Linked DNA regions of Homo sapiens: regions 1, 2 and 4 are each linked to region 3. The links come from fine-mapping of genetic effects on plasma protein levels. A gene starts in region 3. Each other region holds a variant in brackets. All regions are shown on one strand. Distances are from middle to middle.

Region 1 (8,167 bases), 61 kb before region 3:
ATTGGTGTGGTTGAACATTCTTTCATCTAGAACTGGGAAAATTGGCCGGGCGCGACGGTTCATGCCTGTAATCCCAGCACTTTGGAAGGCTGAGATGGGTGGATCTCTTGAGGTCAGGAGTTCGAGACCAGCCTGGACAACACGGTGAAACCCCATCTCTACTAAAAATACAAAAATTAGCTGGACGTGGTGGTGCATATCTGTAATCCCAGCTACTTGGGAGGCTAAGGCAGGAAAATCACTTGAACCCAGAAGGCAGAGGTTGCAGTGAGCCAAGATTGTACCATTGCATGCCAGCCTGGGCAACAGAGGAAGACTCTGTCTGAAAAAAATAAAAAAATAGGGAAAATTAAGCTTGGAGAAAGTCTGTTAGAAATAAAAAAGTTCATAAGAGAATTTCCAAATAGATACAAGAGCAACGTTATTTTGTGTTAGCTGTGGTTCTTAACCTGGGGTCCAAGGACTGGGGTAGATTGACTCCCTGAAATAATATGCAGAGTTTTGTGACCATATGCACAGTAGCATGGAAAGGGTCCTTGGCACTCATCACAATTTCACAAGGATCTGGACCTAAAAAGGCTCACTTATAGGATGGAAGATTTCTGCCCCAAGTAGAAAAAAGGCAACAGAGGAAAGCTCTCAAAGGCCACTTTTTGTTTGAAATTGCATTCTGCCACTTGCTAGCTAGCTCTGTGATCTTCAGCTAATTATTTACTTCTCTGTGCTGTAAGTTTCCTTGCCTGTCAGGTCAGGTGGAGTAATAACAATAGCATCTATTTCATAGGATTGTTGTCATGATTAAATGAGTTGACACAGGTTAAGCACATTTCATTTAATTTTTATTTTTAAAGGAGTTGAGGTCTTGTTCTGTGGCCCAGGCTGAAGTAGAGTGGCGCGATCATAGCTCACTGCAGTCTTGAACTCCTGGGCTCAAGGAATCCTCTTGCCTCAGCCTTCCAAGTAGTTGGGACCACAAGTGCACACCACCACACCTGGCTAGTTAAATTACTTTTAATAGAGGCTGGCACATAGCAAATGTTTAATAGATGATGTTTACTAATAAGAATTATTAGTAACTAGAGCCTTCCAACAATAGGATAGGCTACATCATACAGCGGTGAGTTCCCTGTCACTTGAGGTGTTCATGAAGGAGATAACAGCTGTCAGGCAGGCTCTTGAGGGGATCCCTGAGTTGGGAGGGAGGAGGAATCTGGCATTCTGAGTTTCTGTGAATTAAATTTTCCTGTTGGGCATGTGGCAAATGGTGAGACTAGCAGTTCTCAAGAAGCCAACAGGCCTCCAGCAGGAGTGACAGCTGCGCCTGCTAATATGGAAATGTATTTCTGAGCAAGCAGCCTGTTTCAAGAGCATGTTCCTGGCCCATTCTCCTGAGGGTGCAGAAGAATAGGTTTTTTTTTTGTATTTTTTTTTTCTTTTTTTCTTTTGAGACAGAGTCTTGCTCTGTCGCCCAGGCTGGAGGGCAATGGCGTGATCTCGGCTCACCGCAACCTCCGCCTCCCAGGTTCAAGCGTTTCTCCTGCCTCAGCCTCCTGAGTAGCTGGGAATACAGACGCGCACCACCATGCCTGGCTAATTTTTTTAATTTTTAGTAGAGACGAGGTTTCACCATGTTGGCCAAGCTGGTCTGGAACTCCTGACTTTGTGATCTGCCCACCTCAGCCTCCCAAAGTGCTGAGATTACAGGCATGAGCCACTGTGCCCGGCCTGAAGAATAGTTTGAAAAAACCAAATGCAGTTTCTTCACCATTCTGTGCAGAGAGACTAGGAGTGGGGAAATCACCATAATAGAGCAGGGGTTGGGGGCAGGGTGTATGGCGCAGGGGCAGAGTGTGTGCTCCCAGTAGCTTTGCTGACTAACAGATATTTACTGAGCACTTACTGAAGGCTGTGGGTGGGTGTGATTGCAGGTGGTGAGTGGGGTTAAAAATATGAATTAGATCCAGTATCAGTGTCTCTTCATTTTTCTAGTTTCCATTGTCCTTACTGGATTTCTAGGCTATTCTTGGAAGGGCAGTAAAGCTCAGCTGAGTGGCTGAGGCATATGATTGTCTTTGGGTAGTGGGCTCAGAGAAAAGTTGGAAATTTCCTTTTTTAATTGAGATACGGTCTCACTCTGTCACCCAGGCTGGAGTACGGTGGTGCCATCATGGCTCACTGTAGTCTTGAACTACTAGGCTCAAGTGATCATCCCACCTCAGTCTCCCGAGTAGCTGGGACTACAGGTGTCCACCATCACACTCAGCTAAATAATTATTTTTGTAGAGATGGGGTCTCCCTAGGTTGGCCAGGCTGATCTCAAACTCCTGGCCTCAAGTGATCCGCCTTGGCCTCCCAAAGTGCTGGGATTACAGGCGTGAGCCACTGCACCCGGCCCGAAATTTCTATATATATGTCTGTGCGCATGCTTTTGAGCACAGGGTATCTGTTCAAACTTAATATTCCCTAATTTTGGAGTAAGTAAAATCTGAGTGCTGAGGAAGGTTTGCTTCTGGTCAGCTCCCCCAGAAGCAGACCCTGAGATAAGGATGAGTGAACCCTCTTTATTTGGGAGGTGAAGCACCCCTAGACTGGGGAGGGAGGAGAGGGAGGAGAGGGGCCTTACCACTGGGGGCAGCTGGAGCCTAATCATGCGGGAACAATGCAGGGCACATTCCTCAGACTCAGCCCCCACCAGGCGAGGGGCTGAGGCTTTACACACCCGTTCCCTTCATCTCACTGGAGCCCATTCCTTAGGTCTCCTAAATCCCCCGCACCTCCAACATAGGCAGAAAAAGCAGCTTTTGCACCAGAGGAAGCCCAGAAACAAAGAACTGCAGGTGCTGGTGCTTTGACATCCGTGAATGACAAAGTGAAAGAAATGGGCAGGCCACCAAAGCATCTGCCACGGTGTTTCCAGCAGGGCCGAAACTCCCTCGGTGTGAGTGGGGCCGGGTGCGCACAGGGAAGCAAGATGGATCCAAGCGAGCTCTTTGTCAAGCCCAGTCCTCTGTAAAAGGTTGTCGGTCTGTGTACTTCATAGAGGGACTGGCCAAGAAGGCACAGGTGGGGTGAAATCTAGCCCGGGTTCCACCACTAAGCACCATATGGGTTCGAGGCACTCTGTATAGACTTAGGTTTGAACACCACGGGAAGAGGGAGGTGTGAAGTCTGATGGGTGAGAGGAAGGTGAAGAGGAGGGAAGCTGGGGCCTGAGAAGTCCCAGGTCATACCTGCCTTCCACTGTTGAGTCTCTGCCCATCGAAACTGGAAGCGGGATGGCCTCCCAGGAGATCTCTGAAATTTCATCACGTACAGTCTATCAGCATGTTTTCTTTTTTTTCTTTTCTTTTCTTTTCTTTTTTTTTTTTTTGAGATAGAGTCTCACTCTGTCACCCAGGCTAGAGTGCAGTGGTACCATCGTAGCTCACTGCAGCCTCAACCTCCAGGGCTTAAGCTATCCTCCCACCTCAGGCTCCCAAGTAGCTTGGACGACAGGCACATACCATCACATCCAGCTAATTTTTGTATTTTTTGAAGAAATGGAGTTTTACCATGTTGCCCAGGCTGGTCTCAAACTCCTGGGCTCAAGCGATCCACCTGCCTCGACCTCCCAAAGTGCTGGGGTTACAGGCGTGAGCTACGGCAATCCGACACTGCTTTTTCTTTGAGTCCTCTAGACAGAAACCCCCTTTTGGACTTTACCCCTGCCCTGGCCTACCTGAGGCAGTTCTCATAGCAGGAAAATGAGAACCATGAGCCTGTAGCCCCAAAACCTGGGATCTGGCCTCAGTTTTGCTCCTAACTAGCCATGTAACCCTGACAAACCACAGAGGTGACTAGGCCTCAGTTTTTCCAACTGTAAAATGAAAAGGCTGAAACAAAAAGCTTCCTGATGACTCTTCAGATCTAAGATTTGGTGAGTCTATGGTTCTGGATACATGACTTTATAAACACTTCCCCATCCGGAATTTCTTTTGCATTAAGGAGGATTAAATTTAGCTGGAAGTAACAGTAAAGCCCCAAGAACAGATGGAGATTTTTCATGTCCACAAAGTC[C/A]AGTGATAGAAATCTTATGGTCTGTTACTGGTATGTTACTCCACGGTGTCAGTTCTATCTTGTTCTCTGTGATGACGCTTCTATTCCCAAGGCTTTCTCATCAACTCAAGACAGCCTCTGGAACTCCAGCTATTATATCCATATTCCAGCCTAGGAGGAGGGATAAGAGGACGAATAAGAAATATTAATGATCTGGCTGGGCGTGGTGACTCACGCTTGTAATCCCAGCACTTTCGGAGGCCGAGGCAGGTAGATCATGAGGTCAAGAGACCGAGACCATCCTGGCCAACATGGTGAAACCTAGCCGGGTGTGGTGGTGCATGCCTGTAATCCCAGCTACTTGGGAGGCTGAGGCAGGAGAATCACTTGAACCCGGGAGGCGGAGGTTGCAGTGAGCTAAGATTGCACCACTGCACCCCAGCCTGGCAACAGAGTGAGACTCCATTTAAAAAAAAAAAAAAAAATTAACCCTCTTTAGAAGAAGATTCCCAGAAGCTACCATGAACTTTTTTGCTTATATGCCACTGATCAGAACTTAGATGGCCACAACTCACCTGGGAAGTATAATCTTTTATTCTGGGCATCTGGGTTCCTGCAAAAATTTGGGACACTATGACTATGAAAGAAGGGTAGAGCTGGTATTGGGGGTGACTGCCTCACCTTAAATTTCTCTAGGTATGAGACTAACCAAATAAACCACTTCAGTTAGACTCTGTCCCTTGTCATGTGTCCAATCTCAGGGGTCTCCACTTTGAGTTTTGCTTCTCCAGCTCTGCAGGTGTTTTGTGGTGATTGGCCTCAACTTTTAGGCCCCTGTTTTCCATTATTTTCTCATTAGTGATGCCTGTGATGACCTAGCACCTCAATTATTCTTTGCACTTTGTAAGCCCAAAGCCTCTTTCAGTTGTTGGAGATAGTTGACTGATGTTTCGGGGTCTCCAAGACCACTACATTTAAGTGGTTTGCTAGAAAGTCTCATCGGAGGCTTTCTAGACAGGGATGTTTAGAACAAGGCTCTCTTTGGACCCAGGTAAAAACTCTCAGGATTAAGTAAGTCTGAGTTCTTCAAATAAACAAATGCCCTCTAAATAGAATCTAGTGATTGGCTGAAGCATAACTCAGCATCTAGTTATTCTTACAGTTATAATTTATTACAGTGAAAGGATACAGGGCAAAATCAGCACCAAAAAAAAAAAAGAAAGAAAAGTGTATGGGGCCAAGTCCAGAGAAAACCAGGGGGGCAAGCTACCAAGAGTCTTCTCCAGGTGGAAGTCACATAATATGTGCTTAATTTCCCCAGCAATGAGTTGTGACAAGGGATATGAAATGTTGGCCACAAGGGAAGCTCATTAGAGACTCAACACCCAGGGTTTTTATTAGGGTCTCGTCTTGTAGGCACCTTCTCCCTACCATGTACCAAAATTCCAACTCCCAGAAAGAAAGCAGATGCTCAGCATAAACCACACTGTACAGTCAAGACATGGTGAACCACTCTTATCAGTTTCAGAAATGGTGGGAACACTCTGGAAAGCCAAGTGCTCAGATACCAGCCAAGGGCCAACTTTGCAATTAGGCCTTTCTAACTAAAGATCAGCAGCCATCTCGGACCTGCTGTTAACTCTTCTCTGCATACCTGGTGAATGTGTGCTGTCGCTATAAAAGAATTTCAGATTTTGGAACCAGAGTCAGTGATGCTGGGTTTGAATCTCTTTCCATCTATTGATAAGGTAGGAATCTTCTACCTGAGACCTCAGCTCCTGTCGGCTGGCCCCCAGTGTACCCCTATCCTCTCCAGGCAGTGGTGACAACCCCTAACAGGTTGTTAGCCAGAGTGTTCCCAGACTGAACTGAGGGTTGGGCTGCTTGTTCTCATGGCCCAGTAATGAGATGCAGATAAACTGGGAAAGAAGAGAGTTTATTTCTGTAACCCGGTACAGGCAGAAGGCCAGGAAAATATCACCAGACCGACTCATATTTACAAAGTTTTCCAGTGCTTATATGAAGCTATATGTCTACATGTAAGTGTGGATTCATCAAAAGACACAAGTGACTGATTCCCTGTAATCCATAACTAAGATCTGAGTCCTGGAGACCTTCCTCCGGAGCCTCAGTAAGTTTATTTAATCTAGATGGGTCCAGGTGCTGGGGGTGATTACCCTTATCTTGCCTCCCGCTGAGTTATGGCGGTCTGGGGAGTTCTTTGCTGACCCCTAATAAAACGTGTTTAATCCTAAACGTGGGTACGAGGAATGTAAGAATTTCTTTGTTATCTTGTCATGCTTCAAGGCCCAGGAAAGGCCTAGGCAAGACTCTTGGTGGCTTTTGTCACATTCCAGCCTTTGTGTAAGGACACTGGCTCTTGCAGCCTTTAATGTTTAACCTAAGCACTCAGTCAGTGCTGAAACAGTTGTCATGGAGGCCTGCCTGTTTAGCTATTCGTGAGACCTGGCCTGCCACAAGAGGGGTTGAGTCCCAACCTTCTCCATATCCCCTGCAGGCCGCACAGGGTACCTGGGAAATCCCAAGTACGGACTCTCATACTCGATCACTTACAGAGTCAGGTAGAAACTTACATGTGTGGACACTGCGGTGCATGGACAACACAGGCCCTTTTCAAGGTTCCTGTGCGTGAATGCAGATGGAGGCTGGAGCTTTTGACTTTTTAAAGAGAAGTTGGAAATCCAGGTTTTTGTCTAAAAACACTCAAATTTTAAATGTTTGCTCAAGTTAGCAAATAGAAAACCCAACAGCAACCACCAAAACACTATATGGCCCAAAGAATTTTTGACTCAAGTAATTTAGGTCATGCAGACTGTCCTGGGCCAGGAAGCTGCCTGCCCCCTGCTCCCTGGAAGTGTTCTTCCTGGCAGGGATGTTTAGGACGAGGCTCTCTTTAGACCCCGCTAAAACCTCTCAGGATTAAGTCTGGGTTCTTACAACAAACAAATGTCTTCTAAACAGAGCGAGAGAATCTAGTGGTTGGCTTTGAGGTGCATTTAATTCTTTTTTTTTTGAGATGGAATCCCCCTCTGCTGCCCAGGCTGGAGTGCAGTGGCACAATCTTACTGCAACCTCTGCATCCAAGGTTCAAGTGATTCTCCTGTCTCAGCTTCCCAAGTAGCTGGGACTACAGGTGCATGCCACCACACGTGGCTAATTTTTGTATTTTTAGTAGAGATGGGTTTTGCCATGTTGCCCAGGCTGGTCTCAAACTCCTAACCTCAAGTGATCTGCCCGCCTCCACCTCCTAAAGTGCTGGGATCACAGGCTTGAGCCACTGCGCCCGGCCAGGTTCATTTAATTCTAAACTACACTATAATTTTGCAGTTATGATCAGTATTATTAATAGTAAGACAAAGGCTTTCAGTCATACAGAGGCCTGGACTAAAATGGACTGGCTTTGTGTACTTTTAAAATCCCTCCCAGTATCTAGCACAGTGCCTGGTATGTAGTAATTGCTCAGTGTGTGTCTGAAGAATGAGTGAATGATGAGTGGATAGATGAATGGCTCTTTGCTTTGCTCATGGAGAAGACTCTATCCTGTGAATTTAGGCTGAGGGACAAGGCAGAAGTCTTTGCGAAGCAATACCTAAAAGAAAGCGAGGCTTCAGTGTTCGTTCAGAGACTAAGTTGCAATAATTCACGTTTAGGTGGTGGTTTCCTTCCTATGTGGTGGTTGTTGCTTTTTGTTGAGATGTTCGTTTTGATAAATAAGAGTTCTTTTTTTTTAGACAGGGTCTTGCTCTGTCACCCAGGCTGAAGGGCAGGGGTGCAATCATAGCTCACTGCAGCCTGTCCACTCAGGCTCAAGTAATCCTCCCATCTCAGCCTCCCAAGTAGCTGGGACTACAGTGCACACCACCATGCCTGACGAATTATTAAAACATTCTCAGTAGAGATAGGTCTCACTATGTTGCCCAGGCTGGTCTCAAATTCCTGAGCTGAGGCGATCCTCCTGCCTCACCTTCCCAAAGTGGTAAGATTTCAGGCATGAGACACCACTCCTGGCCAATAAAATTGTTCTTAAGCCCTGAACTATTAGCATATAACATAGTGCTAGGAGCAGAGTAAGTGTTTAATAAATTGTAGTTGTTGTTATTCTTTTTTTTTT
Region 2 (7,793 bases), 37 kb before region 3:
TGGGCCTCAGAGACAATTTTCCCATCCCCAACCTCTTAAAACAAGTGAGTCATTTCCTACTAAAGAAGATAAGGGTCTATTTCTATGATTTATGACCAGATGCTCCTATCAGTCAGTCCCTGGGAACTGCTAGATGATACTCAACTCAGAGGATGTGTGAGGGGAACAATGACAGGCAGTGGAACCAGACAGCCTCAGTGTAAATCCTGGCTCAGCCACTGTGCCCAGCGTGTGACCTCAGGCATGACACCTGACCTCTCTATGGCTCAGTGTCCTCATCTGTAAAATGAGAATAGTACCTACCTCATAGAGTTGTTATGGAGATTAAATGATGAAAATCAGAATGTTGCATATTAAATTTCAATATATGAAAAAGTGCTGACTCTTAGGAAGCCCTACAGTGTTTTCCGTTATATTACTCTTCACAATCCCTGGCTAGTGGATCCAATGAGGATTCAGACCTGAACGCCATGGGGAGAAGGGCAAAGTGAACAGGGCCACGCCTTCTCGAGGAGAGTGTGTAGGCCGGGCTCAGTGCTGGTCTAAAGGACTTCTCAGAACTCTCCTTCTCTGTCCACCTGACTTTCTGGGCTGAGGGGCCACCTGAAGATGAGTCTGCCCTGCCTCCAAGAGGTGTCCTGGAGTCTGAGACCTCTCATGGTTACTCTGGAAAAGAATGAGCACTCCTTTAGACCTGGTCCACCTGCGGCCTGTCCTGGGCCAGGAGCTGCCCCTGCACCCTTTTGGAGAGGGAAGCCAGGGACCAGACCATGCTCTAGGGCCACACCTACCACATGGTACAGGGGGACAGAAAGGGTCCAGTGAAAGTGAAGTCAGCCTTGACAAGCAGAAAATGATGTGGCTCAAACAGCAGAATCCCTGTGCATGCAGCAGGTCTGCTTTATAAAACACAAGACTGAGCTATTTCCATTAGCAGCCGTTCTATGTAGCCCTGAACATTTTTATGCAAAAACAAGCAGTTCCTATCCTCTTCTCCAAGGTTCAACTTTGTGGGAATTAAAACATAGCAGAATGAGTCATTTGTTTTGGGCAAATATCTAGAGGCTGGTGGGACAGGATATTTTAGAAATTAATGTAGATAGTAGTCAGAGTGCAAGATGACCTGCACCAGGGAACATTCTTGACGCACATCATTTAGGGCAGTTGTCAGGATACAGTCCCACCTTCCTCTCGGAAGAGGAGAGGGACATCTGATGTCAGGCTCTGTTGCTGATGTGCCTTTCCTTGTACTGTGATACCAATAATAACACGGCCCCTGTTTTCTGCATGTCACCCTTGGGCCAGCACTGTGCCGGGAGCTTTACCTACATTATCTTGATTTTTCACCATAACCTGTGCGATGCATTTATTTATCTCCTCTTTGCAGATGAAGAAGTTGAGATGTGAAGAGACTGGGAAATATGTTTAAGTTCACTTAGCTAGTACAGTCAGGCCTCTGTATCCGCGGTTCCGTATCCGCAGATTCAACCAACTGAGGATTGAAAAGATTTGAAAAAGAACAATAAAAAATAACACCAAAAAAATACAAATAAGAAACCAATGCAGTATAATAACTATTTACCTAGCATTTACATTGTATTAGGTATTAAGTAATCTAGAGAGGATTTTTAAAGCATATAGGAGGACAGGTATAGGTTATATGCAGATATTACATCATTTTATATAAGGGACTTGAGTATTTGAGGATTTTGGTATCCTGGGGGCAGAGGGGTATCCTGGGACCAATACCCTGGGACACTGAGGGATGACTATATGTACTTTGCAGCAAGGACACAGAGCATAATGAAAGAGATGCACACTTTGGGAGGATGAGGCAGGTGGATCACTTGAGGCCAGGAGTTCGAGACCAGCCTGGCCAACATGGTGAAACTCTGTCTCTACTAAAAATACAAAAATTAGCCAGCATGGTGGCACACACCTGTAATCCCAGGTACGTGGGAGTCTGAGGCATGAGAATTGCTTGAACCCAGGAGGTGGAGGTTGCAGTGAGCCGAGATCACGCCAGCCTGGGTGACAGAGCAAGACTCCATCTCAAAAAAAAAAAAAAAGAGAGAGAGAGCTGTGGCTTCATAGGAGCTGTCCTTGAGTAAGGTTTGGGTCAGGAACTGGTTTTCTGCAGGGCAACCTCTGATCCAGGTATCAGGAGAGAAATTGCATCTTTTTTTGCTTTCTCTTTTAGAATCCTTTCCCTCTCATCCTTGTCCTGGCTGCCTTTGTAAGAATTCCCTATGGAGACAAAAGGGTTTAGAA[C/A]CTTGGGTTGCAGGTGCCGCTAGGGCTGAGTGACACACGTCTGTTTTTGGTGATGTTCTTCCAGAATCTGATCAGTTGATCCAGCCTTGAGTCTTAATGTGGGACTCCATCGTGTTGAGCTAGGAGGGTTCACAAAACTCACTTCCACAGAACAATTCCACTTAAATAAGGAAAACTGAATTAAAAAAATTTCAAGGACCAGGAAATAATAGCAATCCCTCAGCAAACTGACAGCCTTCTATTTTGGGATGATGGTGAAGTTTTCCTGAGCTGAAAGAATATAAAAATAAAAGAGCTAATGTCTATTGAGTGCTATGTATATAACAGAAACCATAATGAGCACTTTCCATGGATCAACTCAATCTTCACGATGGTCCTATGAGCTAGATCTATTGTCATCCTCATTTTACAGATGAGAAAATTGAGGCAAAAGTATTAGGTAATTTGCCTAAGGTTAGCTGGCATGTAAGAGAAGGAGCTGAAATTTATATCTAGCTGTCTTATTCCAGAGCCCATCTGTGAAGCATGATGCTATATTACCTCTCCTGAAATAGATCTCACTTGCTGGAGTGCCTAGTAACCTATTCTGACACCGTTATACCCTATACAGAACTTTCAGGGAGAATTTTCATGGTAATTCTGACCAGAGGCAGGGCTATTATCCCACCAGCAGCTCAGTCCACCCAGAAAGATCCCAAGGAATGGAGCAGCAGGAAGTTCTGAAATTTAAAACCCTCTCCGGGCTGGGCACAGTGGCTCACGCCTGTAATCCCAGCACTTTGGGAGGCCGAGGCGGGCAGATCACAAGGTCAGGAGATCGAGACCATCCTGGCTAACATGGTGAAACCCCGTCTCTACTGAAAATACAAAAAAATTAGCCAGGCATGGTAGCGGGCGCCTGTAGTCCCAGCTACTTGGGAGGCTGAGGCAGAAGAATGGCATAAACCTGGGAATCGGAGCTTGCAGTGAGCCGAGATTGCACCACTGTACTCCAGCCTGGGTGATAGAGTGAGACTCCGCCTCAAAAAAAAAAACAAACCAAAAACCCTCTCCGGATGTTTGCATCTGTCTCTCTGCAGTTGGGAGACATGCCATACCTGTCCTGATTGGTGTCACAGGAGTCCCCAACCAGATCATTATCCACATCAGACTGCAAAGAGAACAGCACATGTTATTTATTCCTGGGCCTGCATGTACCGAATGTTCCAGAGAAGGCAGACCTCACCCATCATCATTGGATTTGGGGAATTATTTCTCTGGAACCGGGGTGGTGCAAAACTGCAAAAGGACAACACCATATTGGTGTAGGCACAATGCTGAATTTTCAAAAAAGCCTTCTAAAATATCAAGCTACATGGATGGGCTGCCCACACACCAGATGAGCTGATTGGAAAGGGGCGCTGGGGTAGCATGGTGGCAGGTGGAGGCATGGAACTCTGGCACGGGTCACAGGGAGCCAGCCATAGGCATGGGGAGAAGGCAGGTTGATTTTGCTTTGCTTCTGCAATTTGCAATTTGGCCAAAATCATGAGTGAGTCACAGAGGGCAACCATGACTCCCCTCTCTCAGGGCTTTAAAAATAAATGACACATCATACCCAATTATCCAGACAGGGAGGAGGAGTGAGAAGGGAGATGCAACACATCCCTGGCTGAACTTAATCTGAAATGTCCATACATAGGCTGTGTAGGGGTTTAGGGACTAAAGGGACACAAGGCTCCCAATGGTTAATTTCCATGCTCCGTTTTCCTTTCTGCAGGAAAAATACTTGTATTGAGCATCATGAAGTTCGTGTTACTAACCTCACAGGCAATCGACAGCCTGGGAGATAGTCCCTAGGGCTTCAGATCTTGTGTGGTGTTCATCCCACCATCTTCAGGCCCACAGTGTGTCATTTTTCCACCTCTGCTTTGTTAGGTAAGTGGCAACAGCTAAGAGGCTCTGCTGTTTTTCTAGACACCCGTCTTAAATGAGTCTTTGCATAGAGGAATTCAGCCTGGAGTTTGAATTCCCCAGTATCCTACTAACCTGGTTAGGGTTGCTGACATCAGGACAACTGTCACAGGCATCCCCCACACCATCACCATCCTTGTCCCGTTGGTCACGATTGGGAAATTTTGGGCAGTTGTCCAGAATGTTTTTTATTCCTGTGAGAAAGAAATGCTACCTTGAGTCAGGGGAATGTCACTGACTTCTTCTAGGTGCTGGAGAGATCAGGCGCATGGTGAGTCACTTCTGCCTGGGCCAGTGTCACACAGAGACTACCCTTTTCTGCAGTTATCCAGAGGTAGCTTCAAAGGACGGATTCTGGGAGACTTAAAAATGAACAGCTCTCAGAGGTATTTATCGACTGAATTCTAATTTGTCCAAGATGTCAAGGGCTATGATAGCAACCACGAGGAGGGGATCATGATGGCTGTATGGCTGACCCTGGAGAGGGAGGATCTCGTGGGTATCTGAGCTATGACTGAGACCCTAGGGCTCTAGGCAGTGTTGTGCTGGAGCTGGGTCCATTGTGTCCCTCTCTTTTCAGTTTTGTGTTTGATGATGTCACATTGGTAGCTTGAAATCAGCAATGAGGACAATGCGGAGTTACATCATGGAAACTGGAAAATGCTACCAACTAGGGCTTTCTGTGATTTGCTTACCAGCATATACCACTGGAAATGGGTCATCAGTTAGGCTTGCAGAAGGTGAGGTCATGTTTTAGGGGGGTGTGCATGTTCTGGAGTGGTGTATGTGTGTGTGTGTGTGTGTGTGTGTGTGTGTATGTGTGTGTTGGGGCAGGTGGTATTTCAAAAAGGTTTTTCCTTCAAGGGCCCACAATGGGATGTGTAGCCTGTGATGCATAGTCTGTGACCCTGCTCAATGCCTTCTCATTCAGTTCTCCACTTCTGGGTCTCTCACATGTAGAAAGGATAGTGGAGAGTGAGGACAGGTAGAAATGGGAAGGGAGATACCCCATAAAGACACACTCTGACAAGACACTGCTTGAAGGGGTCATACAAAGTTTCTGGCAATGATACAGAGTCCTGGAAACATCCAGAGCCATTAGGTAGTGGAGTGGGCTGTGGGGTCTCCTTCCATAGACACAAGTCCACCTTGGGTCTTCCAGATGCAGGCCACAATGAGCCACCCACAGCTGGAAGGCTCCGAATCAGTCATTCTATTCCTACTCTCTCAGAGAACAATGGAACAAGGTCAACTGAATTCCAAATAAAAGACAAAAGCAAGATAAATCTACCATCTCCATCCATGTCATCATCACAGGCATCTCCTCTTCCATCCCCATCGGTGTCTTTCTGGTCGTTATTTAAGACACTCAGGCAGTTATCACAGGCATCCCCAAAGATATCTTTATCGCTGTTCCTTTGGTCCACATTATGAATCAGGACACAGTTATCCTAAAAGATGAAAGGACAGAACATCACTCAGACTTTTACTAAATCCACTTCCTCCATTGTTGTGAAGCATCAGCACTCTGGTGGCCCAAGTTTGTCAGTTTTATATTTCAAACATCTGTGAATCTTATAGGGTAAAAAGCTGCAGTGCTGTGGAATGCAGGCATGGAAACTAACATTTGGGATGATTCATATACATAGTTGACATCACAGGCTTTCTCCCATCATCCCTGGTACGTGGCAATTCACAGGCCCTCCCAGCGAAGCAGGTACCTGCTCATTCAGGATCCCATCTCCGTCAGCATCCTCGTCACAAGCGTCGCCAATGCCATCTCTGTCTGCATCTTCTTGGCCAGAATTTGGCACATATTTGCAGTTGTCCTTAGGGGGAAAATGCAGTTCCGAGTGACATCCTACATTTGTGTTAAGCCAGTAACTGTTTCTGACCTCAAGACACTGTGGCTTTATTGTTGGTGGCTGTTTCACTTCCTCTGAGATGCAGCTACTTTACAAGTACAATTTTAAATTAGATCCACAGAACCTCTCCCCATAGAAGATGTGACTTTGGAAAGCCACAGTGCATGTGTGCCTACTGCCACCCCACACCCCTTACCTTTTTACAGTTCCTGGCAGAGCATGGCAGTTCTTCGTCGGGGTAACTGTCGATGTCCACATCCTTTCCACAGATATAGCCATCTCCAGCCCAACCGACTCCACACTGTAAAGGGAAAGCCCATCAGAGGCCTGGGAAGCTGAGCCTGGCAGGAAGCTGGTGGCTGACAAGGGCCTCTCTGCTCCTTTGCTCAATCCCAGGGGGAGGGCCCAGAGTCACTCAGCCTTGTTGGGTGGGGCTTAGAAACTATTTAATTGCACTTGAATAGTGTAATGGTTCACTATTCAAAGATATAAAGGGAGACTCAGAGAGAAAACTCTCCCTCCCACTCCCACTTCCAGGAACAGGCAGAGCAGCAGAAGGGAGATGGGAGGAGGGGACCCAGAAGGTCACAGGGAACTGGAAACGCAGAGGGAGAGAAAGCTGACCTGGGACGGGAGGTAAAGGAAGGAAGAGGGAGAGAGTCTGAGGAGCAGAGTCTGGGCCAAGGGAAATCAGACTTATGTGAGCACAGGTTAAATTTCCTGGCCTCACCACCCAAAAGCTTTCAGACCAGTGACTTCCTCAGCCACAGCCTGCTTATTCTCAATCATCTGTGCTCTCCCTCTGCAACCAGGATTTAGGAGGCAGAACTCCAGAGAGACCCTCCCGGGCTCCTGGTTCCTGCTCACTTGCCCCAGCAGGGCCTTTGGAAGGCCTGGAAGGCTGATCCACGAGGCTGATCCTTGACTCACTTTAATGAGGAAAAAATGTCCTCTAGGAACAAATACATTTTTAATGAGCTATTTTCTGGCAGATTCAATTATTTTAGTAGTCACGCCAAGTTTATTAATCCTTTACCATCTGTCGTTGTGCCTTATTACAAATTCAAAAACATATTAAGAGCCCCATCACCCATCATCCCAGGGGAGTTGTCAATTTGTTCACAGAAAATGGGGATTTCAACAGAGATATACACTTGTTTCTCAATGACTGCTTTTTGGTAATAAACAAGCCCAACCATGAGGAATTCAGGAAATTGCTGGGGTTATTCCCCCTCTGATACACCACATTCTTCCATCTGACCTTGTTACAGAATATCTGTATTGCCAAGGAGGGCTGACTTCATTATATTTATTTATTAACTCATTTTTGACTCTTATTTTTCCTATTTGAAAAGTGGTAGGCTCATTGTGGAAAATTGTGTATGCATAAAGATAAAGAAGCATAACTTTGAGATAAAGATGGAAAAGGGCTCCGAGAATCCATCTTGCTACTCAGGGGTGATCACTGTGAACCAGTGACCCCAGAGTCTGACGGGCCACCGGCCGAGGGCCTGGCATCCCAGGAAGTGCAGAGGAGGGGGGCAGCTGAAGTCTGCTGATTTTTCAGTGCCTAGGATCCCCAGGACTTTGGATCCTTGGATTTGGGAATGGATGGCAGGCTGAGGACTCTGGATCCTTGGACTTGGGAATGGATGGCAGGCTGAGGACTCTGGATCCTTGGATTTGGGAATGGATGGCAGGCTG
Region 3 (8,167 bases):
TATAAGTTGCTTTTGATCAAGCAAGCAGTACTTTCTCTCACAAACTTTGTAATATTTATGAAAGCTATGAGAGAGTATGCCCAGAGTCATTTAAAAGGCAAAGGCCAAATTTGGGTAATACTCAGTGGAAGTTATTTAGTATATCTATTAGCAGACGCAAATATCATTTGAACAATTCCATAGGCTGCAGAAACTTCAGCACCTACAGCTGTCTCTTGGATATAATAATCTGGTTATTAAATGGGTAATATTGACAATTGATAAAGAGTTCTTACAAATCAATAAAATGATAAGCATCTTAATAGAAAAATGGGCAAGGAATATGAAAAGGCAATTTACATAAAAAGAATTACAATGACCATTAAGTATATAAATAAATGTTCATGTATTTACCTAATGATGCAGGAGTTGCTAACTTAAACAATAACGTATTGTTTTCACCATCGAATTGGAAAATTAGTAAATACAACAGTACTCAACTGTTTGTGAGGGTTCAGGGAAATGGGCACTCTCTGTACCACTGTGTAACATTTAAACTAGTATAAACATTTTGAAGACAGTTTAAACAACAGTATCAAAGGCCCTAAAACATATGTGCTCCTTGATCTAGCAATTCTGCTTATGGGAATTTATCCTAGGGAAATAATGGATAACATGGTAAATGATTTAGGTACAAGAATATTAGACACTAGTGGTAATTCTAGAATTTCTATTTAGGAAAGAATTAGGTGAAAATCTAATTGGAAGAGAGGTAAACCTGAGCTCTGTTGGCATAGCATTTTGCTATGAAAACATTAACTGTCCTTAGCAAAAAAAAAGAGAAGGGCTTGGCTGAGATTGAGGGGATGGTTAAACTCATCCCAAACCATCCTGTGACACCTGCACTTGTTCAATAAATTAATATTTACAATATCAAAACCGAAAACAACTTAAGGGTTCTATATTACAACCCTGGCTAAATACATTTTGATTCTTCCAAAAAGCAGAATACTACCTATTTTTAAAATGTAGCTGAATACTTACAGATGTGAAAAGATGTTCATGATACATTAAGAAAAAAGGATTCTAAAACTATATGTATAACGTAATTCCATTTGAAATATATTTTTGCATAGAAAAATATTTGAAATGAAAGACAATACAACAACATGTTAATGTTAATAGAAGCTATCCCCGGGTTGCATAAATATAAGTTTTAAATTTCCTCTTTTCTTTTTATTTTATTTTTTGCTTATCTAACTTTAATCTTTTCTACAATGGGCAGGTATTGCTTTTGTAATAAGAATGAATAAAAGTTCTAAAGCAAACAGGCAAAAACCTAGTTACTCAAGAATATTTACCCCTTTTAAAAGACAATTTGTCTTCAAACTGGATCTATACTGTATTTTTCACATGTACCAGGGGTCCTTACACAATAATGAAATTAACATGAGATGTGTTGGAAAGCAGAACATTTACTGTGCTCCTCTTAGTGCCTATATCCCTAAACCATAAACACTGTTGCCTACTGCATTTCAAAAGGGAAATTGGATTTTTTAATTTTCAAGAGAATTGGAAACTTTACATTTCCACTAATGAGGGCAAAGGGAAATAAGGCAATATGTTTTAAAGTTCCATTCAGGACAAAACATCTTCAGAAAAGAGATATGTATTTAAAGTATGGGAACTACATTCAAAACAAAATTCTTAGTACTCTTGATTCTTCCTTTGACTATGATCAGGTTCATGATGTAACTCAAGCTAAACTTGCGGTATTTCAATCTATGGTTCGTCTGATTCATTTGCATCTCTCTCAAGCGGCAGAGATGGGATTAGTTAGTAATGAACATAGAGAGTGTTTTGAAAAGGAAATGAGACACTACCATTTTCTATTAATGTTATTACGTTTAAGTGCCAGGATCAAAGCACAACCCTCTACTGTTAGAGGTGAAATTACTGCTACCAATGAGCGCAGCTACCATGGTATGTAAATTGAATATATACTAATTTAAGACCAACAATGAAGCTCAGGGGAAGAAGGAGATAATCAAATTATCCTGTTAAGCCTGATAATTGCAGACTAGATAATGCAATAAAAGAATCTATCAGAAACTTAACTTAATCAGATCATCTACAGCAACTAAATTACCCAGATAATTTAGGTTGTATAGGCCGAGTTCAAATCTCCATAAAATGGTCAGGTATGTCTGAGACATACCTAAGGCACACCATAAAGCTGTATGTTCAAAAGTCAAGAACGTATATAACACAAAAAAATTATACCTATAAATTTGAACTTGCCAAATATCATCACAATAAGACTTTTGAAGTGTTTAAAAGCTTCCTTTTTTACCTTCCTAGAAGTATGGGGCACGGACTACAGCATTTCAAATACTTCAACACAAACTAAAAGTTAGCAGTACTCTAACCCCTGAAACCACAGTTCTGGTTGTCTGGTCTGGAATGAAAATGAGTTATTTGGCGAAATGCAGTTTAAATGGGTGATTCCAGCAGCGAGAGGCAGGGAAGTTGAGAACGCCCTCATAGGCAGTCTTTGCTCTGGCTACAAGAGGAAAAACAACTTTTACTTCAAGTTGTGCGTCTCTTCCAGTTTTACTTCCACAGTCAGTAATAAATCAACCCAGGCACCAAGTTCAAACAGATGAAGCTCACGCCTGACCAGTTAGGGCCAGTTATAGCCCTAAGATCTTTCTTTGCTTAAATCATGTCTTCCTTTTGGTCTTTACAAAAAATTCTGTTTAACTGCTTTCTACCCAATGGCTATTTCACCCCATTTCACCAAGGGGTTTGAGGATTGTCCAAGTATCTTTTCACATTATTTGTTGAATTTTTACCGTTTCATAGAAAAAGATCAATTTCTTTCTTTTTTCTTTTTAAATTATAGATTCAGAGGGTACATGTGCAAGTTTGTTACATGGGTGCATTGCATAAGGTGGGATTTGAGCTTCTAGTGAACACATCACCCAGTGAACGTAGTACCCAATTGGTAGTTTTCCCAACCTTCCCCCCTACTTTTGGAGTCCCCAGTGTCTACTGTTTCCATCTTTATGTCCATATCTATCCACTGCTTAGCTCCCGCTTGTGAGAACATGGTATTTGCTTTTCTGTTCCTGCCTTAATCCACTTAGGAAAATGGCCTCCAGCTGCATCCATCTTGCTGCAAAGAACTGATTTCATTGAAAAAGACCAGTTTCTCAGCCCTTCCTATTTACCTCAGAAATTAAGACATCAAGCCAATCCTTGAAATAAACTTTCTTTTTGTCGTTCAAGCAAAGTCAGAGCAGAAAATGCAGGTGGCAGGGCAAGTAGAGTAATTCTGCGTCTTTCTCAGGGATGTCAAGAGCAGACTCTGGGCATACATCGCTCCGCCTGAGGAAGGATTTAGGGAGCAAGGCTGCCTGGAGGGAACCGGCACAGGGTGCAGGACCCGGAATTCACCCTACACCAGAGCCTAACATGTTAAGAGGTCTAGGACCGTGTAGCAAGTTTTGAAGGCAACCCCACCCCACATCTTTGCATAGTCTGAAACAATTTTGCATCCCCCAACTATTTAGGCAATTGTTCTCATCATTGGATAATCGAATTTCGGAAAATTCTAGACTAATCACTACCTCCAATCACAATATGCTTTGATTGGGCCCGGGAGGGACAGAGAGGGGCTGAGCAAGGCCACAGGAGCACAGGGCCGAGCAAGTCCCTCCACTCACTCAGCAGATGGGGCACCCGGTGCCCGGCGCTCCCAGGCCCGACCCGAACCCACTTACCCTGGGGGGTGGCCTGGGCGCCTGCCGCTAGCCACCGCTGCAGGACCAGGTGCAGCAGGAGGACGGCGGCTCCGCGCGGGGCCAGCATGTTGGCTCTTCCTGCTCCCCGCGAGGCCGGGGGCGACGGCGGCGTTGGCCCCGCCTGGGGGTCCCCGGGCCGTGCGTTGAACCTCGGTCGGCGCCCGGGCCGGCGCCGCAGGTGACCCGTGCTCGGCGTCCGGGCTGCCGTCGGGGGCGCGCTCGCGTCCCCGCCGTGCGGTGCTGGGGAGCTGGCTGCTGGGCTCCGCGGCAGCGGCCGGGCGCTTTATGGTGCGGCCGGGCGGGGGAGGGCCGGGGCGGGGGCGGCCCCCTTGGCGGGATCCCCTGTCCTGGGAAGAGCTGGGCAGCTGGAGCAGCGAGCCGGGGCCGCAGGGAGAAAGGCGCGGGTGTGAGGATGGGAAGGAGCCTGGACGGACCAGGTCCTGGGGTGGGTGTAGACACGGCCCCGACGCGCGAGGGTAGGGGCGAAGATGGGCAGTCGGGGCTGGAGAGAAAGGGGTGCTGAGCAGAGACCACAGGGGAGAAAGGAGCGGGAGGAAAGGGGCGAAAGGGAGGAAGAAAGTGACACTGACCCACTAGCTTTGGGCACCTTCAGTCCCCTACTCCTTGCGCTCCTTTTGTTTTCTAAAAAGAAGAATATCCTTTGGATCGGCTTTGAATGCCCACCTTGGGTTCCCTTGCGAATGAATCCTGAAGTTCTCCAGGAACGCTCTGCCTCCTAAAGTGGCCCAGAGAGCAGCGAGTTTCTTTTATTTCTTCAAGCTTTTCTTGAATACTTGAAAGGCTGAATTTTTTTCTCTATCATTTTGAGACACAGTGAAAGTTTGAAAGTTGTTGTGTTTTTAATGGAGATAAAACACATCTCAAGGAATCCATCCAGACAGAGCCATTTCTAGGCTGGTGAATCTGTGCTTTATGGATAATTCGTTTTCAGTATGGTTTCCAAACGCCCTGCTTGCCCACCTCTATTCCTCTGTCACCAAAGATTCCGTGTGACAGTTTAAAGGTACGGGAGTAGAACTTGAAAGAGATCGGAGGAACGCAAGTAATTCGTCCTTTTCCTGGGCAAAGCTCCCGGAATGATATGGATTAACTAGAGGAAAAAATATTTGATAAACAGTGGCAAAAATTTCTCCTCTGTAACAATCTCGACTAATGGAGAACATCCAGCAAAGTATTGCTATCTCTTTTATGTCTCAAATAATTCCATTTCAAAGTTTAATAAGCCACAAACTGGGAGATTAATGCACCATTTTATCCCCAAACTGTGCTAAAATAACCTGACACCAATTATCACTCAATTTACAGCTAGCGACTTGGAGATTTGTGAGCTATCTGCAGAGCTCTCTAATATGTAAGGTCCAATACAGGTCTATCCAGGGTTCCTTTAATGCCACATTACACTACAGTCACTCTTTGGAATGGGGCATATGTCTACACATGAGAGAACACTGAGAGACACAGAGGATGTGCATAAATATCGACTAATGAGATAAACTAGATTTGGGAACATTCAAATCTCCAGACCATGTTCCCAGGAGTGGCCTGGGTTTGAGAGGAATCTAGGCTCCCAAGCTACGCTTCAAGCAGAACAGCCTTGCCTTTCTATGTTTTTACAGTAGACTTCAGAGATTAAGATTTTCTGTGAAGACAATATTTGGATGCTCAAAATTTTGAAAGCCACTATTCAGTGGTTCTCAGCTGATTGGGTATACCAGAATCTCCTGGGGAATTTAAAAAACAGTGATTAGGTGCCTACAGGGAACAAATGAAACCAAACATCAAAAGCAGCAATATGCTATATCACACCATAGACTACTCTGATACATAAAATAGGGTTACTCCTTAAATGAGTCACCAAGCAAGCCTAGTGGATGCCTGTGAGAGTTCTTGTGTAGTGTGCCACCAGACACTGCCTGTTTCCTCTCAGATCTGGTGCTCACCTTCCACTGCATGCTTGTCAGCAGTCTAGATAAAATGGGAGACTAGAGAGCAATAAGAAGGTAGAAGGTAGACACTAGAGTATTTACTTCTCTGTGACCTGAATGGATGCATCTTCTTTGTGACTCTTGCAGGTGGGGTCCACCATGATTCTAGCTTCTGCCTTCTCACCATTTGCACCCTCCAGCCATGACATTGGAGGTCACTTACTGCAGTTGCTAAAATGTGGATTGCCTCACTCTTCTGTTTGACATCTCAGTTCTTCTACTATATATGTAATCATTTCCCTGTATTAAATTTCTTCTATTTAAAATACCTAGAGTATTTGCTAGGAATCTCCATGGTGAGGACAATGCACCACGTGCTGCTGGAGGTAGATGTGTTGGAGGGCACCCTGCAGTGCCCAGAGTCTGGACGTGTGTTCCCCATCAGCCGCAGGATCCCCAACATGCTGCTGAATGATGAGGAAACAGAGTTGATCATGCCAGGTGCCAGTTTTTCTTTTTATGACCGTGTGTATTTTTGTTGATGTTACCCTGTTTCTGAATTCTGCCATGTGTGTCCCCAACCCTTGACCCAATGACACACCAGACGCACGGTGTTCTTGAGCACAATAGTATTTTTTCTCATTAAAGATTCAAAACCAAAACAAACAAACAACAAAAAAACTAGGAATTTTCGATCCTAGCAAATTCCCAGCAAAATAGCTTGCACATCATGATGGTTAATGTTGAGTGTCAACTTGACTGGATTGAAGGATGTAAAGTATGGCTCCTGTGTGTGTCTGTGAGGGTGCTGCCAAAGGAGATTAACACCTGAGTCAGTGGACTGGGAAAGGCGGACCCACCCTCAATCTGGGTAGGCACCATCTAATCAGCTGCCAGCATGGCTAGAATAAAGCAGGCAGGAGAAGACGGAAGAGCAGACTTGCTGCGTCTTCTGGCCTTGATCTTTTTCTGTGCTGGATGCTTCCTGCCCGCAAACATTAGACTCCAAGTTCTTCAGCTTTTGGACTCTTGGACCTACATTAGTGATTTGCCAGGGGCTGTTGGGCCTTCAGCCACAGACTAAAGGTTGCACTGTCAGCTTCCCTACTTGAGGTGTTGGGACTCAGTCTGGCTTCCTTGCTCCTCAGCTTGCAGACGGCCTATTGTGGGACTTCATCTTGTGATCGTGCGTCAATACTCCTTAATAAACTCCCCTTCCTATCTATCCTGTTAGTTCTGTCCCTCTAGAGAACTCTGACTAATACACACATATAGGCACACAATAAATTTTGGTTGACTACTAAGTGTAACGGAAAAACAAAAGAATCAAATGACTTTCTGTTAGCCTAACAGAATTTACAATCTGGTTTTGCTTTTAGAGGGCTTGCATTTTTATGCAGCCATTCGCTAGGGAGTCTCAGTAAACTTTATGTCCTCAGGTCTACAGTAAATTTGATTATAATAAAATTAATTTAATTAGCTATGAAATATATGATAAAGGAGACAAAAGAGTTTATTTTCATTTCCATGCCACTTCTTATTAAAATATCTATTCATGTACTTACATTGGATTTTATTTCATTTATTTTAATAATGTATTAATTTGTTTGATTTTTTTTCCAGTATCCAACTGTGAGCTCCTTAGGATTATCTCATTTAGTTTTGTAACTCTAATTCCAAGTACAGTACCTAACATTTAGTAGTAAATATATCATTGAATTGACTTTCCTTCTCTTAATACTGTAATCTAGGATAAGAGTTGTGACATATTAGTAATCCATTAATAGGTGCAGTAGGTTACAAAAATGGCCCCAATTCTTTGCTCTTCTGTGTACACATCTTTTATTTTTCTGTGTACACATCTCATGGCTTGGCCACGTAACATGCTTGGCCAACAGGATTTTGGCAAAAGTGCCACAAGCAGAGGCTTAAAAAGTGCTTGTGTTATTGGGCTGGTTTACTCCTGCACCTTTGCCTTTGCCATGATAGCATGCCTGTGCTGGCCTACTGGAGGATGAGAGACATAGAGCAGGGTATAGCCCACCCCTGGCAAAGCCAGCCAAGATCAAGCTGACAGATGAATGAGTTCAGGCAAGATCAGCAGAGCTGTTTAGTTGACTCCAGATGTGTGAGCAGGACACATTTATTTTTGTATACCATTGAGGTTTGGGGGTTGTTTGTTATGTAACAATATTGTAGCAATAGAGAACTGATATACTACATTTTATTTCTTTTCTAATTGTTGTAATACAGAGTATGACTTAATTTTTGATGTTTGACTGCAGACAGTTCTCAAGCCCCACCACTTCCCTTCCTCTCTGCCCCACATCTGAGCAAACTGATAAGAATGCCTAGGTGCTCCTTCCTTGGCACTAGCACAAAGTTCCAACAGTAAGCCCTAGCCCATGTACAGGAACCCTCACCACAGCCCCACTC
Region 4 (8,167 bases), 160 kb after region 3:
ATAAAATAAAAAAATAATAAAAAGAAAAATAGTGACCTAATCTGCCTAAATTCCCAAGCAAGAAACCTAGGAGTCATCCTTGACGACTCCTTCTCCTTCTTACCTCCCACATCTAGTTAATCACCAAGTCTTGAGAATTACACACATTAAATATCTCTCATATCCCAACCTGAACCCTTGAAAGGTATCACAACTGGTTTCCTTGCCTCCAGTCTTGACTTCCTTCAACTTGTTCTTCATATTGTATTCAGAAAACACTGTCAAAAACTTACATCAGATCTCATAAGACCATTGTGGCTGTCCATGTTCTTCCTATGCATCCAGGGCCATTAATATGGCTCTGAGGTTAACATTCAACTTGTGTTTATCTGCATGGTTAATGGTACTAGCTGCTTAAATAGTAAAATTCTCCTATGCTTTGGAACTACTTCCCCTATCTCCTCTCCACCCATTAACCAAAGAGTGAATGCTGAATCTACTCTGGTTGGTTGATGCTTGTGCCAATCAGTTTCCCCCAAAATATGGACTTCTAGGCACTGCCATTGGCTTCCACCATGAGAGGATTGCCTCATGCCCGTGTCTTGGTGTTTTCCCAATCCAGGTGGGTTTTGCTTGAGGATCACTGTGGTGGTGTTCAGCAGGCAAGCCCTATGCTCACCAAGCTCTAGGCCTTGTCCCAGTGAATTCACTTAACCAGAGCATTCCCAAATCCCATGGTAAAGGGATGACATTACCCCTGATAGGGACTCTGGTACCCTCCCAGGCTGTAGTCAGCTACCACAGGCCAGTGCTCCCTCAGAGTCGCCCTCACCTGGCCATATGTGGGAACATCAGCTTTTGTCGAACTTGGGCTCCTAGAGTACCCAGTGAAAATTGAAAGAGCAAATAAGTGCATATTAATATGCTTCCTACAGGTCCTGGTCAGGTGCCGGGCAGAGTTCAGGAATGATGGGCACTCTCGAGAAAGACAGGCACCCATAAGGATGGTCTGGAGACCAGTGAGAAATTCTTCTCTGTTGAATTACTCCTACATTTATCAGAAGAGCTTGGATACCTGATGGTCATCTGTCCTGGGCATTTACAATATTAATTTTATTACTAAAGGGGAGAGCTAATGGGAATAGAACGCCAGCTGTGTTCATTCTAGATGTATATTAATTCAGTGGAACACCACAGATACCATAATTTCCATTTTATGCATGAGAAAACCGCAGTGCAGGGAGGTTATCTACAGCCTGAGGGGCTGAGCCAAAATACTGAACTGGCAGCTCAGTACGTAATTGCCCACTAGAGCCTCTCATCTAGCCTAAGGAGTAGGTGAAACTCAAGCATGTGATTCCAATATACCATTTTCATGACTTAGTCAATATAAAGATATTGAATAGATAAAAATCTAAGGCAGTATTACAAGCGCTAGGAAACTTTGTTAATGCAATGGCTGTTATTTCAGCAGATGCTGAGAGAAAATTAAGCATCTTGAAAAATACCATTGAAGTTAAGTGGATTCTCCACTTCCTGAGTCTGCGTGTTACTTAATGTGCAGCAATTTAATGGGAAAATCATTGGAAAAGTTTTCTCATGGCTCAGGGGCATCATTTATCTAGTGGCAGTTACATCAAAGAAAAAAAAAATCACATCTATAAACAATTTGTAGTATTACTTAAATCTCTTGGAAAGGAAGACATTGAATAATATCTATAATTTAGCAAATTTAGAGAATAAAATGGAACACATTTTATAATTACATTTAAGATAAATGTAATAGTTTATGAAATTATATCCACGTGTCAGCTGTTAAATATTTTTGTCTTGCCCCTGCCTATCTCTCAAGCCTTCTCTGGTGATTCCTCCTCTCATCCTGGGCTTCAGCAATTCTGTAAGCTTCGGTTCTTGAGAGTCCTCCCTTTTCTTGGAACATTCTTCTCCCTACATCCACAATGCTGAGCATCAGCCCAGGCTCACTTCCTCAGGGTGAGTATCTTTGCCCTTTGGAATAAATCAAGTACCCTTACTGGATATTACAGAACCCTCTGGATGTCTCCCAGCAAAACCTTATTGCCACTGGCTATTAATGTAATCACTTATTCTGGGCCTGTTCTTCTTACCAGACTCTAGGTCCCATGAGGGCAGAGGCGACCGCAGTCCTACTCCCTGCTGCATCTCTAGGGCCCAGTCAGGGGCCCTGGACATACTAGCTGCCCCAAAGCTATTTTCTGAATAAAAAGCTGCATTGCGGCCCATCAAAACACTTTACATTTGCCTTTAAGTTAATAGCACGTGTAGGTTGGGCACAGTGGCTCACGCCTGTAATCCCAGCACTTTGGGAGGCCGAGGCGGGTGGATCACTTAAGGCCAGGAGTTCAAGACCAGCCTGGCCAACGTGGTGAAATCCCGTCTCTACTAAAAATACACACACACACACACACACATACACACACACACACACATAAAAGCATGTATAGATATTTTTAAATTGACTAACAAATTTTTGCAGTCAATCATTTGAAAGTTAAGTTCAAATGATTTTCTAAAAAGATGTAAATTGGGGTTGAAACCCAAGGTTCTCGGCTTCCAGGAATTTTTCTCTAGGGATAGTTATTTAACTGACCGAGCAGCACCCCTCATTATTCTTGGATTTTCCCATACTTGCCAGGGTCTTACTCTCCTTTCTCTTCCTACAATTCATCATCTTCAGAATCTCTACATATGGGCCTGAGCAGACCCCTCATATTGGTTTGAGTTGGACACCATTTTGATCATTAGACCTTTGTTTGCTGTTTGGTGGTTTTTTGTTGTTGTTGTTGTTTTTCAGAAACACGCAAATGTTGTGTTTGATCTGTGGTTAAACACTTCTTGAACACTTCAGACCTCGGCTTCTTGGTGATCTCATAAATTTTCCACAGACTGTGTGTCATTCACAACCTAAGGATCTGGAAGGAAACCCAGCTTTAAAATGCACTTCCCAGTGATTTCAGCCTGAAAGGTGATATGTCTGTTTTTCTAACATCTCAAAGTCACTGGAATGTGCATTGGCAATGTTTCTAGACCAGATTTCTGGGGAACTGGCTCATTTGTCTGAGAGACACAGTTAAGTTAAAGACACTAAAATCTCAATTCTCTTGGCTACTTCACTTCAACTACACAGATGGCTGCTTTGGAGACTAGCATATATATTAGCTGAGATAAACAGGAATATGTCCTGGCAGAAGAGTATTGTCCAAGTGATATTAGAAGCAAAGCTTCTGAGAATGTCATTAAGAATATGTCCTTTAAGTGGTGAGACCATTGGTTGATGTAACTCAACATTCATTCCTTTATTCACATGTATTTCCTGCACAGAGGCTGCAGGCCAGCCTCTCTGCTAAGCTACATGAATCAGGCACAATCTCTACCCTGGAGAATTTTATAGTCCAGTTGAGCAGACAAACAATTATAGTGCAGTGGTAGCTTTGTGTGTGTGCTTGGTACAGCAGGCTTTGGGGGCACAGAGTGAGGAGTGACCACCCCTGCCCTAGAGGATTCAAGAAAGGCTTTCTAGAGGAGGCTTTGAACTGGATCTTGAAGAATAAGTGGTAGTTTACCACTCTTGGGAAAAAGTGGCAAGGGAACCTAGAAGCAACGGCATGGCAAAGACACAGACTCAAGAAAGAAGACTCACTGTTCCAGAAATATTTAGGAGCTTGATGTGGCTGGAGCACAGGTCCTCTGGGGGCAGCAGTAACATTTTCATGGGAACATGGTAACTTGCTCTTCATAGGCTGATCCTAGTGACCATGACATCTAATATCTGTGAATTTATCTGACCTATTCTCGGACCCATTTTTTACTTCCATGCAGAACACCTAATGGGGGTAATGGGTTCCACTTACAGGCTACAGGCTGTGTAAAGATCTATTTCCTTTCAGTTGTCCTAAAATACTTCCTTAAATGATCACCAACAGGGTCATTTTTCCCTCTTTTTATAATTGCAGTGTTTTGGCACTCCTACCTAATCCCCAGGCATCCTATAGATAAAGAATGGATGTGAAAGGCACCACTGAAGCCCTGGCTGGGGCAGCCATGCCCACCTAAAGGCCAAAACCCACCCCCGCTCCACCTTCCACCTCACACGCACAGGCCGCATGCTGCCTTTTTGTAACTCTTTTTCTCT[C/T]TGATGACCTCCCTTGATGTTAATGTTATTCTTTTATTTTTAAAAAAATAAAACAAAATCCCCAATGCATTAATGTGCAATGAGAACTAGATCTGCCAAGTGACTCACAGCAGCCCGAGCAGGACAGTCTCCCCATGCAGCTGGGAAGAATCTGAGCCTCGGCTGCTGATTAGAAGGATGGAGCTGGTGAGCGGCATCGGGTGCCGGCAGACTGCAGCGTCCATTGCCGCAGTAACAACACTCCTGGCACCTGGGCTTCTCCCCAGTCAGGACTGGGATTGGCCCTGCCAAGGTGACACTCTGGAGAGCCACCTTCTTCTGATACCTGTAAGGATATAAATGTTAGGGAAGGACAAAGCTTTTATAGGTGATCTACAAGATGGCTTTACAAAAAAGTTCCTTTGGGACTTTGTCCTGAAACAGGAAGCTTTTAGCCAGAGCCATTCTGGAATTTTAAAAAGAAGGGACAGGATTCTAATCTCAAACAACCCCTGGAATCAACTTTTGACTCCTCCTGTCTGACTTTTCCTCCTCCTGCTGGGACAATAGAACTTGCCCGGCTCTACCCAGGGCCCTTTCCCTTTTTTCTTTCCTGGCCTCTTGGCTCAGCTCACCTCCCGCTTCTCATCCTCCCTGAGCGATGTCACACATGCCCATGGCAGGCAGGAGAGGAGAGAGGTTGGATAAGGAACACGGTGCAAGCCTGACTCCACATGAAGGAGAGATGGGAGGAAGGATGGAGAGAAACACTGTAGACCACCCAGCAATGTAAAGAAGCTCAGCAGCGTTATGGGGGTGTTCTTGAGCAAAGGTGGCCATCAGAGTTGTCCTGGCTTCCAAGGAACAGGCTGCCCTGGCACTCCCACCAACCTCAGCCATTGCCTTGGTGTAGCCTATGGGAAGCATGGCCTCCATACAGGCATGGTGATGGATTGCAGAGTGCAGCAGCTGGGCTCCTGGTCAATGAAGTTCCTCCATCTTGGAGGTCTGCGAGGCTCATACTCATGGCTGCCACACTGGAGGACTCCATGTCATCCTTGCCTGGCCAGCTTCTACTGTCTTCCAGGTCTTAGTTTAAATGTCACTTCCTTAGAGAAGCCAACCCTGACCTTGGGGTTGCCCAGGCCCCCCTGCTGTCTACTCCCAGAGCGCACACTTCACTAAAAGTTCCTGTTCAACTGACTCCTCCGATGCACTCTGCACTCCAGGAGAGCTAGGCTGAGTCCACAGTACTCGGCAGTACTTGGCCCCTAGAAGCCACTCAGTATGTATTTCTTGAATAAATGAATGACTAGTTGCTGGTGCTTGTGAGACAGCTCAAATTGTGCAACAACCTTGGCTTTAGGGAATATGCTTCTTCTGCAATGGATTGTTCCAGGTAAAAGCTTTGCCTTTATGGGGCATTTACAATTTTCAGGCTGAGTTTTCAGAACAACTGAAAGGACCCCTTGAGGGAAACATTTCAAATCAGGGCAATGTGCCTGAGCCTCTGTGGCTATTTCCCTAACTTTATGCCTTAGAATAGGGTCTGGAGCAAGAGAATTGGGGACAATGGAATCCGGTGAAAATCTACTTTCTAATCCTGCTTCGGGCACTAACAGGGTCTTAGATTTATTCTCTAAAACCGGTGTTCATACTGCTCTTTCTCCTTGGGTTAACAAGAGCCCTAAAAGACATGCAAGATGTAAACATGTTTTGGGCGTTTCTCAATGCCAGCCCAATCTCGGATTGTCTTGCTGTGGCTGTTGCTTGTGGACTACAGATTTCAGGGTGCAAGCAAGTAAGTGAAGCGAAGATGTGGATTGGGACATCAAGATTCCCCAAGATGTTTTGTGGGTGGCTGTGCCTTGGAAAATAACACAGGAATAAAGAGAAGATGGGGTTGCCTAAAGCAGATCAGAACTGTCTGACGAGTAAGGAGGGATGTGTAAGCCATGGAAGCTCATTCACATGATTTTACATCGGGTGTAAAAATAGCTGGAACCCTAGTTCCAGCTAATACTCTTCACTGGGAAAAATGTGGGCAGCTCTGTGGTAAGAAGCAGTACTTCCTGATAAAATCTGTCGATCCGTTTAAGATGCTCGGAACCCAGTCCCTCAAGATGTCTACAATGCCTCAGCCAAGTTGGCCAAGGCCCTAGAAAACATTACATGCTGCGGAGAACAATGTGTATTGGCAGAAGCCACTCTCATGCTCTGTGTACAGCTCAGTTCAACCTCAGATCACCACGGACAACCAGTGGGGGCCCCTCGCTGGTCCCAGAGCACCCACTGGAAGCACCTAGGGCAAGAGCACCTTTCTGGGTCCCCGAAGTTGCGTGGCACACTTGGAATAAATACAGGCATCAGAGAATCCAGAGAGACCCAGGTTCAAGGCCAGACTTCACCAAGTCAGTTCTAGGGCTTTGCACTATTTCCTTAAATATGACTTTTTCATCTGTCAAATGGAGCTACAGCAAAATCCCTCACAGGGTTGTGATAAGGATTTCAGATAATGTATGTCAAATATCTAGCCCACAGAAGAGTTCAATAAGTCAGAACTATTATTATTTTAACAAACTTGTGTTTGGATGCTGGTTTTGCCGCTTACTAGCTCTCTGATCTTGAGAAGTTTACTTAGCCTCATTGAGCCTCATTTTCCTTATTTTTAACAGGAGAAAATAGTACTTAACTTTCAGTAGTGTTATAAGAATTACAGTTAACGTAAGAAAGGTATCTGAGTATGTTCCTGGCACAGAGTAGTACTCAAAAAAAGTTATGTACTATCATTTTTTGTAAATCAAAACAGGAATGAAAATTATTCATGTTGGGTCATATCAAGCAAGTGTGCGCGAGGCTAACAAGCCATTTGAATTGTTCTGTGGGAAATAAACTCTCTTCCAAAACTGGCTGTCTCATTTCCCCAGGTTAGATGCGTTCTGAACCTAAGACTGACCCAGAACTTGGAAGGGTTGGGCCCTACCTACCCTCACTCCCTCTATGGGGCTCTCCTTCCTTTGGCCACTTTCCAAGGAGACATTTTCTCCTCCAGCCCCAGGTCCCCTGAGGAGAGCTGAAGCAATAGGTCACTATCATTTAAACTGCTGCAGAATTTGCAGACCGTGAGACTCCTGTCTCTCCCCACTCTGCCTGGCTCATCCCCAAGAAGAAAGGAAGCCAGAGGTGGAGGAGGTTATAAAACCATTTTATATCCATCCTGTTTTTAATTGATTTCACAGCAGGAGAAGAAAAACCAGAGTGTTTCCCACATAACCTTTCTATGCGGGAGTTCTCTTCTGGTCAGGAAACTCATCTGGGAAGAGCCAGAGTCCATCTGTGTGTTCTCAGTTGTCTTCCTGCAGCCTGTGAACCCTGATTCTGTTAGTGCCCTCCATGAGGGCTGCTCCTGTGTGTCCCTGGGCACCCCCTTTACACATCCCCTTGGGGGCAGAGGCAGCCCTTCCTTGGCTGTAAGCTGCCCTGGTCTCCAAATGGGTCAACCTTTTCCATTTAATGTGCAGTGCACATGCCCCTGGGGCCTCCCGGTCCCTTAGATCTCTTAGATCTCCATGCTCTTGGCTCAGACCCACAACTCATGACCTGCAGGAGCCCAGAGTCCTCCGGAGATTTCTGTGGATTCCTGGGAGGAGGCAGGGGTGGCTAACATTATATAGGCCTCTCAATTTTTCTGCATCTTGGGGCAGGAACTTGGTCCCCAAAATGGTGCATGAAGTATTTTTTGTGAGGACTTGGTTGTGGAGAGTGGTCACAGAATGCACTGCGGATAAAACAATGAAAACATGCATGTTTGATACTTCCACTCTTAGAAAACGGTTCAGCCATCCAGCCATGAGTTGGGGATGCGGAGCGATACTCTGTCTTTGTTAAATATTTTTAAACATAAACGCTGCCTCTAGGGAGGGGAACTGGGTGAGGAGGAACAAGGAGCCAGAATACATATCTTTTTAACTTTCTGGATTTTGCACTATTTACACATATAACTATTATGCATGCATGCATACACACATATACCGTATC

Which allele goes with the higher level. Alleles are on the strand shown, and positions count from the first base shown. The strength of an association depends on the size of the effect and on how common the allele is.
In carriers of allele A in region 1, the plasma level of the protein whose gene starts at base 4,042 in region 3 tends to be higher than with C alone (moderate association).
For the plasma level of the protein whose gene starts at base 4,042 in region 3, C is the low allele of the variant in region 2 and A is the other (moderate association).
In carriers of allele C in region 4, the plasma level of the protein whose gene starts at base 4,042 in region 3 tends to be higher than with T alone (moderate association).

The links. PIP is the chance, under the fine-mapping model, that this variant and not a neighbour inherited with it causes the effect. Protein levels are from antibody-based Olink assays in UK Biobank. Linkage for the fine-mapping came from a reference panel and not from the study's own genotypes, which makes the PIPs less certain.
Region 1: its variant is fine-mapped to the plasma level of the THBS4 protein (UK Biobank, PIP 0.98).
Region 2: its variant is fine-mapped to the plasma level of the THBS4 protein (UK Biobank, PIP above 0.99).
Region 4: its variant is fine-mapped to the plasma level of the THBS4 protein (UK Biobank, PIP above 0.99).

Annotation. Positions count from the first base shown.
Region 1 is chr5:80,092,260-80,100,426 of GRCh38, reverse strand. No RefSeq gene overlaps it. Among named protein-coding and RNA genes, the nearest start is that of THBS4-AS1, 13 kb to the right of the region's middle. The variant C/A (reference allele first, on the strand shown) is at 4,057.
Region 2 is chr5:80,068,903-80,076,695 of GRCh38, reverse strand. THBS4 (thrombospondin 4) reads right to left here. Exons shown (of 22, transcript NM_003248.6): 11 at 6,286-6,390; 12 at 5,946-6,053; 13 at 5,516-5,675; 14 at 4,300-4,418; 15 at 3,369-3,421. THBS4-AS1 (THBS4 antisense RNA 1) reads left to right here. Exons shown (of 8, transcript NR_109930.1): 4 at 4,031-4,188; 5 at 4,473-4,610; 6 at 4,805-4,964. Among named protein-coding and RNA genes, the nearest start is that of THBS4-AS1, 11 kb to the left of the region's middle. RefSeq lists an enhancer at 5,308-6,507. The variant C/A (reference allele first, on the strand shown) is at 2,272.
Region 3 is chr5:80,031,223-80,039,389 of GRCh38, reverse strand. It overlaps THBS4 (thrombospondin 4), which reads right to left and starts at 4,042. Exons shown (of 22, transcript NM_003248.6): 1 at 3,765-4,042. The coding sequence starts at 3,852. It also overlaps the pseudogene TRMT112P2.
Region 4 is chr5:79,871,548-79,879,714 of GRCh38, reverse strand. The region is part of intron 1 of LOC105379048 (a long non-coding RNA gene); the gene reads right to left. Among named protein-coding and RNA genes, the nearest start is that of LINC01455, 61 kb to the left of the region's middle. The variant C/T (reference allele first, on the strand shown) is at 4,151.